2 separate regions of the Homo sapiens genome follow, and region 2 is linked to region 1. The links come from fine-mapping of genetic effects on gene expression. A gene starts in region 1. The other region holds a variant in brackets. All regions are shown on one strand. Distances are between the middles of the regions. Region 1 holds the start of TOR4A (torsin family 4 member A). Region 2 holds the start of RNF224 (ring finger protein 224).

Region 1 (5,355 bases):
TGCCTCAGCGCCCCCCCCACCCCAGCATCTGGGACTACAGGCACATGCCGCCACGCCCGGCTAATTTTTGTATTTTTAGTAGAGACGGGGTTTCACTGTGTTAGCCAGGATGGTCTCGATCTTCTGACCTTGTGATCCACCTGCTTCGGCCTCCCAAAGTGCTGAGATTACAGGCGTGAGCCACCGCGCCCGGCCTGGTTTTTTTTTAAAGATAGAAGAAATAGATGTTTCTGGGCTGATGGGAATGACCCAGTAGGGTGAGGAGTGGAGGATGGTCCAGGGGCTGGGCTGTCACTGAATGAGCAGGTGGCCGGGGTCTCAGCACAGCAGGGGTGTCCTCAGAGGAGGGCTGATGGGCGCAGATGCTGGGGTGACGGCTGAGGAGACACTGGGAGTCCACTGCTGCTGCCTCCCATTTTCTCAGGTCTTGGGCTAGGAGGCAGGATAGGGGGAAGTGGCAGGGGAGAGGACGAGTAGAGGACTTGACTGTAGGAGGAATGGTCAGTGAGTGGACCCGGGTGCCTGGTTTGGTCACTGGGCAGCGGGCGCGTCCTGTCCAGGGCGCCTGCAGGGGGTGCCAGGCCTACGGGTGGGGAGTGAAGGACAGAGAGTGAGGAGCCCGTGGGTGAGGGACTGGTGAGGTGGAGGGTGTGAATTGCAAGGACTGGGATGGGACCGTGCGTGGACGGCTGAGCCTCGGGGGCGCATGGTTACTGTAGCGAAAGCCTTTAGGGGCAGAAAGAGCAGAGCTGCCTGAGCGACTGGGTGTGGACGCTGCTGGGAAGTTAGGGAGAAGGACTTGGTAGGGGAGGACCGAGGGCCCAGGCACGGGAGGCATCGTCTGGTGAAGTGAAACCTATGGGGAATTTGGGAGGAGAAGTGGGGAGGCTGCCCACGGTTTGGGGAAAACAACCTTGCTGGCAAGGGCTGGGGGAAGCAGTGAGGGTGAAGTCCTTTCAGAGGCTGAGAACATGTACTGTGTTTGTGGGTGATGGACATGAATTCTGGGCGCAGCGGCAGGGCTGGGTTGGGTAGGGAGGCGGGAGGGGAGGCCTCCTGGAATGGGAATGGGTGTGATTGGGGGTGGCCCTGGGTATCACAGGAGATGGTGATGGCCCTGGGAGCTGGGGTTCTGGGGCTCCCTTCACCCCTGTAGATGGGAGAAAGTGCAGGGGGTGAGGCCTTGGCCCAGGCCTCAGATTCACCTTTGACCCATAGGGCCAGGTCTTGGGGCACCCCTTGAGCGAGTCCCTTTCCTGCAGAGGGCTCTGGCCTGAGGATTTGCTGGGCCAGCCTCTGGCAGAAGCAGCTCCAGCCCTGGGTGCACTTGGAGGCAGGGCAGAGGCTTTGCTGCAGGTTTTCCAGGGCTCGGTCAGCCTGCATCTGCCCGAGGGCCTCCCCTCCAGGGTCCTCTCTGTGTCAGAAGAAGCACCGAGACTCAAAGCCTGAGGCCCCCAAAGGACCCCAACCTCCGTGCTGGGGCCACGGGGCCTGGACAGCCAACCTCCTTCCGCTCTGGTCCCACAGAGGCCGGGGAGTGGGCCCAAAGAGCACCAGCATTCCACCTGGTGTGTGCGGCCCCCGCGGCCTCGACAATTGGGGATCCGGGCCCCCGAGCACCCCTTGCACAGGGGAGGGGAGCCCTAGGCCTGGCTCCTGGAGGGGAGCGTGATAGTCCGGTGGACCCCATACCCTGGAGAGAATGGAAACCCCCAACCCACGACCGGTTTCCCTGATGGAGCCTGTCTGGTTGGGTGCAGTGTGTGAGGAATATACAGCTGGAACCATCAGGCCCGGGCTGGCTGTTGGGAGGAGTGGGGCGTCCCTGGGACTGCGGGGTCCTGAGCTGAATGCCAGCAGCACTGGTGTGGCTGGAGCGGCCACCTTGCCCCTCCTTGGAAGGCGGCTTCCAGGCTGGGCCAGGGTAGGAGGAGTCCAGGGTCCTTTAGGCAGGCCGGCAGGGGGAAGGGCCCAGAGCTCCAGCTCCTGGCTCCCGGCCCAAGTTGTTTCTAAATTTGTTCCCCAACCCCCACAGGGACCCTGAGCCGCACGTGGTTTTTTCCGTGATAGAACTTCCGTCTGTGTGTGCTGGCCTGTCCTGGGCAGGGGGCTCCAGGCTGGGGACGGAGGAAGGGGGAAAGGAAAGACAATGAGCCCACTTTGGGGGGCCCCCGATTGGGGTCAGGAGGGGAATGAAAAAGCGGGGAGAGGAGTAATAAGAGAGGGATTGGGGGTATGCAGCTCGGCAGAGGACCCTGCCCGCCCCCTGTGCTGCTGCCTTGCTCCCGCCTTGCTTACACAGGGCCTGGAGCCCCTCCCCCCAGCTGTAAGCCCTGTGTGTGGGGTGACAGGTGGAAGGGATAACCTGGGGGAGGTGGGGGCCCTGGAGGACAGGCTGAGGTGCAGGAGCCCAGGGTGGGGGCACAGCATGCAGCAGGGGCCCTCGGCCTCACCAGGTGTCCTGAGCCTGACCAAGCCAGGAGGGCTCTGAGCGCTAGAGAACTGAAGCGGGAATGTGACCTCCGGCCAGGGGATCTGGGCAAGCCGGCCAGGCCTCCCCCCTTTGGCGCCTCCGTCCAGCCCAAGTCCCGCCTGGGCCGCACCCCCTGACTCACTTCCTTTGCATAGAAGCGGAAACCTCCCCAGAGCTTCCTCTACTCCGGCCGGCCGCTCCCTGGGGACCCACAGGTGTCGCTGCCCCTCCAGGCCGAAGCTGGCCCAGGAGGCCCCTGGCCCACCCCCTCGCCCTGGGAGGCGCATTTCCTGCTTGGAGTCTCAGGCCCCAGCGTCTGGCACAGGCAGGGGCCTGCGGAGCTGAGGGCAGTGGACCAGCTGCAGGTAGGGGGTGGGTTGGGGCCCAGGGCCCAGTTCCTGCCAGTCAGTGGCTCTCTTGCTCCGACCGGCCTCTTCTTTCTGTCCATCTTTTCGTTTCACCTCCACTAGTCTCCGGGGGGCTCCCTGCACTGCTCAGCTCGTTCACTGGAGGGGTGTTGGGAGGACCCCAGTTTTGGAGTCGGGGCTGGGAGGCCTGGGTTGAGCCTGGGGACGGGGCCCGGGCCTATTCTCAAAATCATAAGTTCCAGCCAGACCCCCGCCAAGTGTTCTGGAGCGTGTGGGGGCGTCTCTGAACTCCTGGGCGCTCAGGCCTCTGCTTCCCGCGGCCCCTCCTTGGGAGACGGCCCAGTCCAGTGGGAGCCGCGGGCGGGGGCAGGGTCCGGGGGTGACTGTTCACCCCAGTGGGCGCCTGGGCGGCCACTGACTCCTTCGACGACTCCTCCAGGAAGCCGGGGCGGCCACCAGATAAGCCTCTACCCCGCCACTTCCTCAAGGCCCGCGGCCGTTTATGGGAAGACCCGAGAGATTTGCATCGGGGCCCTGCGGAGGGGCGGAGGGGCGGAGGGGCGGAGGGGTCGCTTGCCGGTCTGAGGGGCGAGGCCGCGACCAGGCCCCTGGCCCTGGGGCAGCCCGGGCCGCACCCCACGGGACTCCCAGGGGGTAAGATCACTCCGGGGACCGGTTCCGGCGGCCCGCGGGAAAGGGCAGTGGCGGGAGTCCAGAGACCCTCCCCGTCTTCCCGTTGCAGGGAGGGCGACCTGTATGCGGAGCGCCGTTCCTGCGACATGGACCGCGGCCAGCCCAGCCTGGAGCCTGCTGCCGCGGCCCCCCGAGCCTCGGGCCGGTGCGTGATCGCGCCCGTGCGCGCTGTGCTCCGCCTGCGCCGCCGGGTGTGTGTCCTACGCAAACGGCGCCTCCTGCAGCCGGGTGGGGGGCCCGACGTCGGGACCGGGGCGCCCAGGCCGGGCTGCAGCCCCCGGGCACCGCGCGCGGACCTGGACCAGCCAAAGTTCTTCACCTTCGACAGCCCCGCGGAGCTACCCTCCAGGACGCCACGCAAGAAGCGCCGGCGCAGCCGCCTGGTGCTTTACCCGGAGACCTCGCGCAAGTATCGGCCGCGCGTGGAGCACAGGAGCCGCGCGCAGCGCTGCCTTCTGCTGCTAGTCGCCATCGTGGGCTTCCAAGTTCTCAACGCTATCGAGAACCTGGACGATAACGCGCAGCGCTATGACCTCGACGGGCTGGAGAAAGCGCTGCAGCGCGCGGTGTTCGGCCAGCCCGCTGCCGTATCGCGCATCGTGGCGCTGATGCGGGACTACCTGGCCACGCATGTGCACAGTCGTCCGCTCCTCCTGGCGCTGCACGGGCCCAGTGGCGTGGGCAAGAGCCACGTGGGCCGCCTGCTGGCGCGCCACTTCCGCTCGGTGCTGGAGGACAGCGCGCTCGTGCTGCAATACCATGCGCGGCACCACTGCCCCGAGGCGCGCGCCGCACAGGACTGCCGCGAGGAGCTGGCGCGGCGCGTGGCCGACGTGGTGGCGCGGGCCGAAGCGGAGGAGAAGACCCCACTCTTGGTGCTGGACGACGTGGAGCTCATGCCGCGGCCGCTGCTGGACGAGCTGCACGGCTTCCTGCAGCCGCAGCGCTCCCACCACTTCCACAACGCCATCTACGTGCTCCTCAGTGGCGCGGGTGGCGCCGAGGTCACGCGCTTCGTGCTGCAGAACGCGTCCCGCGCGCTGCCCCTGCGCCCCGACGGCTTCCGCAGTGCCGAGGCCGCAGCGGCGCAGGCGGAAGAAGACCTGCGCGCCAGCCTGCTGGCTGTGCTGTCCCGGGAGCATCCGCTGTGGCAGGCCGCGGCCATCGTGCCGTTTCTGCTGCTGGACAAGCGGGATGTGGTCAGCTGCTTCCGGGACGAGATGGCGGGTGAGGGCTTCTTTCCTGACCAGGCCCGCGCGGAGAACCTGGCCGCGCAGCTCAGCTTCTACCGCGTGGCTGGCCGCGAGTTTGCCGTCACCGGCTGCAAGCAGGTGGTGGCCACGGTGAACCTCCTGTAGTGGAGGCGCAGGACGGGACGTTTGGGTTGATGGCGGCAGTAGGAGGGCGACCAGGGACCTTGTGGGCTGGTGCAGGCCCCTGAGGTTTCTAGTGAATTTGTGGCTGCCCGGCTGGTGGGTGCGGATCAGCTTGGAGCTCTGCTTCCAGGTCCACACCCGCCTCAGAGTCCGGAGTCTGTCCCTGGGGGCGGCAGGACAGCAGCCACCTCCCTCCCAAACTTGCCCATTGCCCTGCTGGGCGTCCCAGGCATGGTCTGGTGCGTTCTCCCTGTGGCCCCAAGAGGTGGGTTCCCATGGTACAAGGATGATCTCAGGGCCAACAATTCCCGGGGTCACACAGCTGGGACGTGACCCCGCCTCTTGGGGGTGGTCGCGTGTTGCTCAGTGCTGAAGTGGGGTTCTCATTCCGGCCCCCCTGGAGATGACCCCGGAGGAGGCCACAGCCAACCATGACAGTGCTGGG
Region 2 (5,354 bases), 48 kb before region 1:
TTGAGGCCAGCTTGGGGCGCCCTGGTGTTCCGGGCAGGGCAGAGACAAGGCGAGGAGGTGGCAGCCGAGCTGGCCACGCAGGACAGACGGGTCCTCACGCCATGCCAGCCCTTCCCTGACGCATGGTGACCAGCTCCACAGCAGGGCAGGGCAGGCGCGTGGCATGCAGAGGTCTCCAGGCGTGGGACAGATGGGTCACTGCCCTGACCCTGTGCCAGGACTTAGCGTGCCAGGCTCCCCGCCTTGCCCCGTTGCTGGCCCCCACCAGAGGGTGACCACACCCAGGCCAGCCACGAGAACTTGTCTGACCAGTCCTGGGGGCAGACTGCCAAGAAGGTGGGCAGGGGTGAGGAGGGGCCATTTGCTTCCACCCAGCGGGGCTGTGAGTGGTTCTGGGGTCCTGCCCACCTGTCCCAACCCTTCTTGGTCCCTCAACTCTGCTCTGCCTGCAGTCTGGTGTGGACACACTGATCATACCTCCCGGAACCTGGGCCTCCCAGGGTGGCCTGGAGGCTGCAGACGGGCAGAGCAGCCAGGAGCTGCCCACCAAGGAGGCGTCTGGCACTGTCTGGGGTCCCGAGCTGGGAGCGGGGATCCCCAGACACGGAGCTGGTGCGCCACCTGGAGTCCATGTGGACTGGTGCAGCCCTCTGCCGTCCAGCCGGCATCAAGGTGAGGCTGAGAAGCCACACAGATCCACAGACAAGCACAGTGGCAAAGTCTGCAGAAGGCTCTGAGCCAGGAGGGAACCCTGGCAGGCTTCCTAGAGGAGGAGATGTGAGCAGAGGCCAAGGCAGGAAAACATTCCAGTATGGAGGGGAGGTTAAGGGAAGGAGAGGGTAAGAGTGAGGGAGCGGAGGGAAGGGGAGGGGAGGGGGAGGGGGAGGGTGGGGGAGGGGAGAGGTGAGGGAGGTTTTGAGTGTGGCGAAGGGTGTGAGCGTGCTGAGAAGCCCTAAGAGTGGGGAAATGGACCCCAAGGCCAGCCTGGATAAGGTGTTAGCAGAAGCTGGCTGGGTCTGGACAGGAGGGGGTGGGCAGGGGGCGGGGGGCACCTTATCTCTTGCAAGTGGGTGGTGCCGTTAGATCTAGTTTCAAGGCTTTGTGGCTGAAACGGGAGCCCACGCCCGCCACAGCTGGCCACCTGCCTCTCTCCTGACTCCCGTGCAAGGCCAGTAATGCAACCCAGGAGGGAGCCGCAGGGCGCCCTGGGTCCCCCACTCCCTTCTCCGGCCACCCCGTGGCTGTGCATAGCTGCCCAGCAGAGCCCATGCAGGTAAGAGGCCTGGGCTCAGGTCGGCCAGGAGGGTGGGGGCCTGGAGCTGGGCCAGGGTGGTGCTGCGGGAACAGGAGGCTGCCCGGCTGGTGCCCACATGAACCAGAAGTGTGCAGACCCTGGTTCTGCCTGTGCCCGGTGCCACGCTCCCTCCCAGGTCTGCACGCACCACCCCCACAGACCCAGCGCCTGACCTCTGGGGTGGGCTCCTGGGGCCAGCACCCCATCCAGGCGGAAGGTCCTCGAGGCAGGCTGTCCACCGCTGGCTTCCCTCTGGCAGGATGCTGCAGCCGGAGGGCCCCCAGGCCTCGGAGGAGGGGGGCCCCCGGAGGAGAGGACAGACTGCATCATCTGCTGCTCGGCCTATGACCTCTCCGGGCACCTGCCCCGCCGCCTCTACTGTGGACACACCTTCTGCCAGGCGTGTGTGCGGCGGCTGGACACACCGGCGCCCGAGCAGCGCTGGATCCCCTGTCCGCAGTGCCGTCAGAGCACGCCCACGCCTCGCGGAGGGGTGGCCATGCTAGACCTGGACCTGGCTGCTTTCCTGGCGGTCAAGGCTGAGCGGGAGCCGGCAAGACTAGAACCCCTGCCCCTCACCTCCCTCAAAGGCAGCGCCATCACTCGGCAGCCAGCTGGGCTGTGCCCTGCCCTGGGACCCCAGCCCCACTTCCCCCAGCCCAGATACTGCTGCTGGGGCTGTGGCAGCCTCTGCTGCCCACCCCTAGGCAGCCCCGAGGTCTGAACTCTGGCCATTCCCACCCCTGCAGGGGAAATGCCTGCCTTGGAACCCCTGACCACACACCATCATGGGTTCAGCCCACTCAGAACAACCTGGCAGTAGCATCCTATACGCAGCTTCGTGTGGCCCAGCAGGGTGGTGTCATCCCAGCCGTGAACATCCCAGGCCACAGCCTAAGGTTGGGGGCTGGGAGGCTCCGCAGGAGGCTGGTGACCT[C/T]CCACCTGTCCTGGCCACAATTACCAGACCCCAGACTAGCCCGACCGGATGTGCCTGGTGAGGACACTGCTGTCTGAGTGGGCGGCAAGCCTGGCTTGGGCCTAGACGCAGCGCAAAGGATGGCTCCCAAGAGGATGCGAAGGCGTCCCGGGGGCCTGGGCTGCAGGCTGGAGGGGCAGGGCCGGTCTGGCTATGCCTGGCGGGCTGCCCAGAGCAGGTCTCCCCTCTCCCACAGACGTCCCCGGGGTGTACCGGGAGGGTGGCAAGACTACCTCCTTCCTCCCTGCCCTGCATGGCAGCCCTGTGAATTCACCCACTCAACAAAGCTCATGGAGTTCCCACTGTGTGTCGGGTGCGGTTCTGGGAGGGTCTCGTGTAGGCACGAAGCCATACAGGCATTGAAGGGGATGCCTCGGCGGGGCCTGCCTGAGGCCAACAGAGGGCTGGGGCCTGCTTGAGGTCTCACAGCCCAGTTGGTCTCATCCTTCGCTGAACCTTTCCTGGCTCCGAGCAGCCACCACACAGACCCTTTTGAGGGGCCGGGGCTGGGGCTGGGGCCAGACTGTGGACAGCAGTTACCACCAAGTCAGTGCTGCAACACCCCCACCCCCACTGGAACGAGCTGTCACTCAGGAGCCCCAGGGAAGGACTGCTGCCCCCCACCCCCAGAGCAAGGGCGCAGGAGGGAGACGGAAGAGAATTTGCTGAGCGGACACTCAGAAGCTTCTACCTTCTCCAGGGCAAAGTCCCCATGCACACAGCGGGGGCTGGGCAGCAAGCAAAGCAGGGCACCAGCAGCCCCTGGGCAGGGTGAGCCTCTGGGGGAGCTGCCCCGCACCCCAGGGCAGGAAGAGGCCCAGTCCTCCTAGGGGACACCCCACAGGCGGTGGGGCCAGCTGGGACTCCGCTGGGGAGAACTGTGCGCTGGGCCAGGCAGCGGGTGGGGAAGGTGGCCTGGGGAGCTCTGTCCTCCCCTCTGCAGATGGAGGCTGCCGGCCGCCGTCGCTGGCTATACCAGGGCCGAGCCCGCTAGCAGCCTGCTGGGCCCAACCCTGCCCTGAACCCGGATCTGAACCCTCTGACCTCGGGCTGGGTGCCCTCCCCGGCTACGTGAAAAAGCCCGTCCTCCCCCACCACCTGGTGCAAAGGGCTTCCCTCCCCTGCTCTGCCGAGGGCAGGGATGACCCTGAGAAGGTCTGGGGAGCCCTGAGGTGCATGGAAGTGGGGGACTGGCGTCTCTCGACTCCCGGGCAGCCCCAGCCATACTCTAGCATCCTGCCTGGCTGGGTGGAGTGTGTCTCTTGGGTCACACGGATGCCTGCTGAGGATGCCCAGTACCGAGGGCCGGTGCCCCGCCCCGCAGTGCCCTCGGCCTGATTCAGAGCCCACCCCTGGGAGGAGCCCCACTCCAGGAGGGTTGGGCTGGGGCTTGGAGGTCCTAGCCACAGAGTGACAGGATGGAGACAAGGCCTAGGGGCCTTGGGGCCAGGAGGGTACCCCCGTGAGGGCCTGGGCTCCTGGGTAAACATTAATGGGCTCAGTACCCAGCAGGTCATGTGCGCGATCAGGGGATCTTTGACCTGCAACTGCTCCCGCCCCGTGTCTCCTCCCTGCAGGTGCCCCCTCACCACCCACACAGGTAGGAGCTCCTAGGACCAGGCTGAGGCCCAGGGACAGTGAGGCCGAGGCTGGGTGGCCTCCAGGCCAAGGGCTTGGGCCCCATCCTGAGTCTCCAGGACCCAAGGGCAAGAGACGCCAGGCTTGGGCAGCAGGAGGGAGGGTGAGGCACAGGACGCCTGGACCTGAGCCCAGGGCACTAGGTGGAGGGGTCCAGGTGGGGGGCCCCAGGGGTGGGGTGACCAGGCCCAGGAGGCTAAGGCAGCAGCTTCGGGGCCAGGAGCCTTGAAGTGGTGTGAGGACCCCACCTGCTCCCCATCACCAGGGCGTGGGGCCCTTATCAAGCCGAGACGTCACTGTTTAGTATCAAATGCCAAAGTCTAAGTCGGGACCATCCACAGTGTCCCCGATGACACCAGATAGGGGAGGTCCCCAGGTTCCCCAGCTCATGGCCTGCACCCTCGGCACTAGCCTTCCAGTCAGGACCAGCAAGGGAGCCGGGGAGCTGGAGCCCCTTCGAGTCTACCCCTGAAACTGGACTGGGCTCGCCTGACAACTGCCTGAGGTCATTGTAGCCATCCCCCTGTGGATGGAGAAAGGGGGATGGTCACTGAGGCCTGCAGGGCGTAGAGAGGGAGGGTGGCGGCCAAGGGCTCAATTCAGGGGACCCAGGGGTGTGAATCCAGCTTGTGAGGACAGGGCCGGGGCAGGAGGAAATGTCTCTGACACGCGCGTCCCCCCCAGCAGATCTAGACCTGGGCCTGGGTCTGTCCCTGCCCGAAATCCATGCCGAGTTCCCTTCCCGGCAGCCAGGTCCCCCACCCCACTCTGGACGCGGTTGACCTAGTGGAAAAGACTCTGAGGAATGAAGGTACCAGTGGCCCCTGTGCCCCAGGCCTTCACCAGTCTGACCACCCACCCCCCAGGCACTGGGCAGAGACAGGCCAGGTTTCCTGCGGGCCTCCCGGGGAACCCACAGGGCTCATGACGCCTCCACTCAGGTCCAGCCCAGCTGGAGCCCCATCTTCCCCGTTCCGTTTCTGTCCCTCACTCCAGGCCTCTTACGCCTCAGCCCGTCCTCCGGCCTGTGCCCTTGTGCCCCCAGTTGGAGGGAGGTGGTCCTGGAAACAGCCGTACTCAATTCTACCTCCACAGGGACCTCCAGTTCTGCTCCAGTCTTGGAGGAAGGGGACACAGACCCCTGGACCCTCCCTCAGCTGAAGGACACAAGCCAGCCCTGGAAAGGTGGGTCTGGAGGTTCCGGGGGTGGCAGGCTGGCAGGCCTCTGTCCCCAACGGGACTGGGGAGACAGAGCAGGGTGGGGCCTGCCCAAACAGGCTGTGTGTGGGGAACTCCGCCATGCAGGCCCCCTCTGGGGAGACACGTGTCCCTCAACCGGGTGTCTGTGCTGTCCTGGGGCAGACCGGCCACCTCTGCCCATCCGTCCCTCCCCTCCTGCTCCTGCGAGGGAGGGTCCCAAGGGCTTCTGGCTTGGAAAGGCAGGAA

What was found.
Region 2: its variant is fine-mapped to the expression of TOR4A in whole blood (TOPMed, PIP above 0.99).

The regions. Positions count from the first base shown.
Region 1 is chr9:137,275,070-137,280,424 of GRCh38, forward strand. It overlaps TOR4A (torsin family 4 member A), which reads left to right and starts at 2,657. Exons shown (of 2, transcript NM_017723.3): 1 at 2,657-2,838; 2 at 3,584-5,355. The coding sequence starts at 3,621. The coding sequence ends at 4,892. RefSeq lists silencers at 2,558-2,877, 3,158-3,217.
Region 2 is chr9:137,227,069-137,232,422 of GRCh38, forward strand. RNF224 (ring finger protein 224) reads left to right here and starts at 434. Exons shown (of 3, transcript NM_001190228.2): 1 at 434-793; 2 at 1,084-1,273; 3 at 1,554-2,572. The coding sequence starts at 1,268. The coding sequence ends at 2,018. SLC34A3 (solute carrier family 34 member 3) reads left to right here and starts at 3,833. Exons shown (of 13, transcript NM_001177316.2): 1 at 3,833-3,870; 2 at 4,596-4,719; 3 at 5,004-5,093. The coding sequence starts at 4,635. RefSeq lists enhancers at 103-603, 393-542, 737-1,362, 2,630-3,130 and silencers at 529-823, 643-712. The variant C/T (reference allele first, on the strand shown) is at 2,232.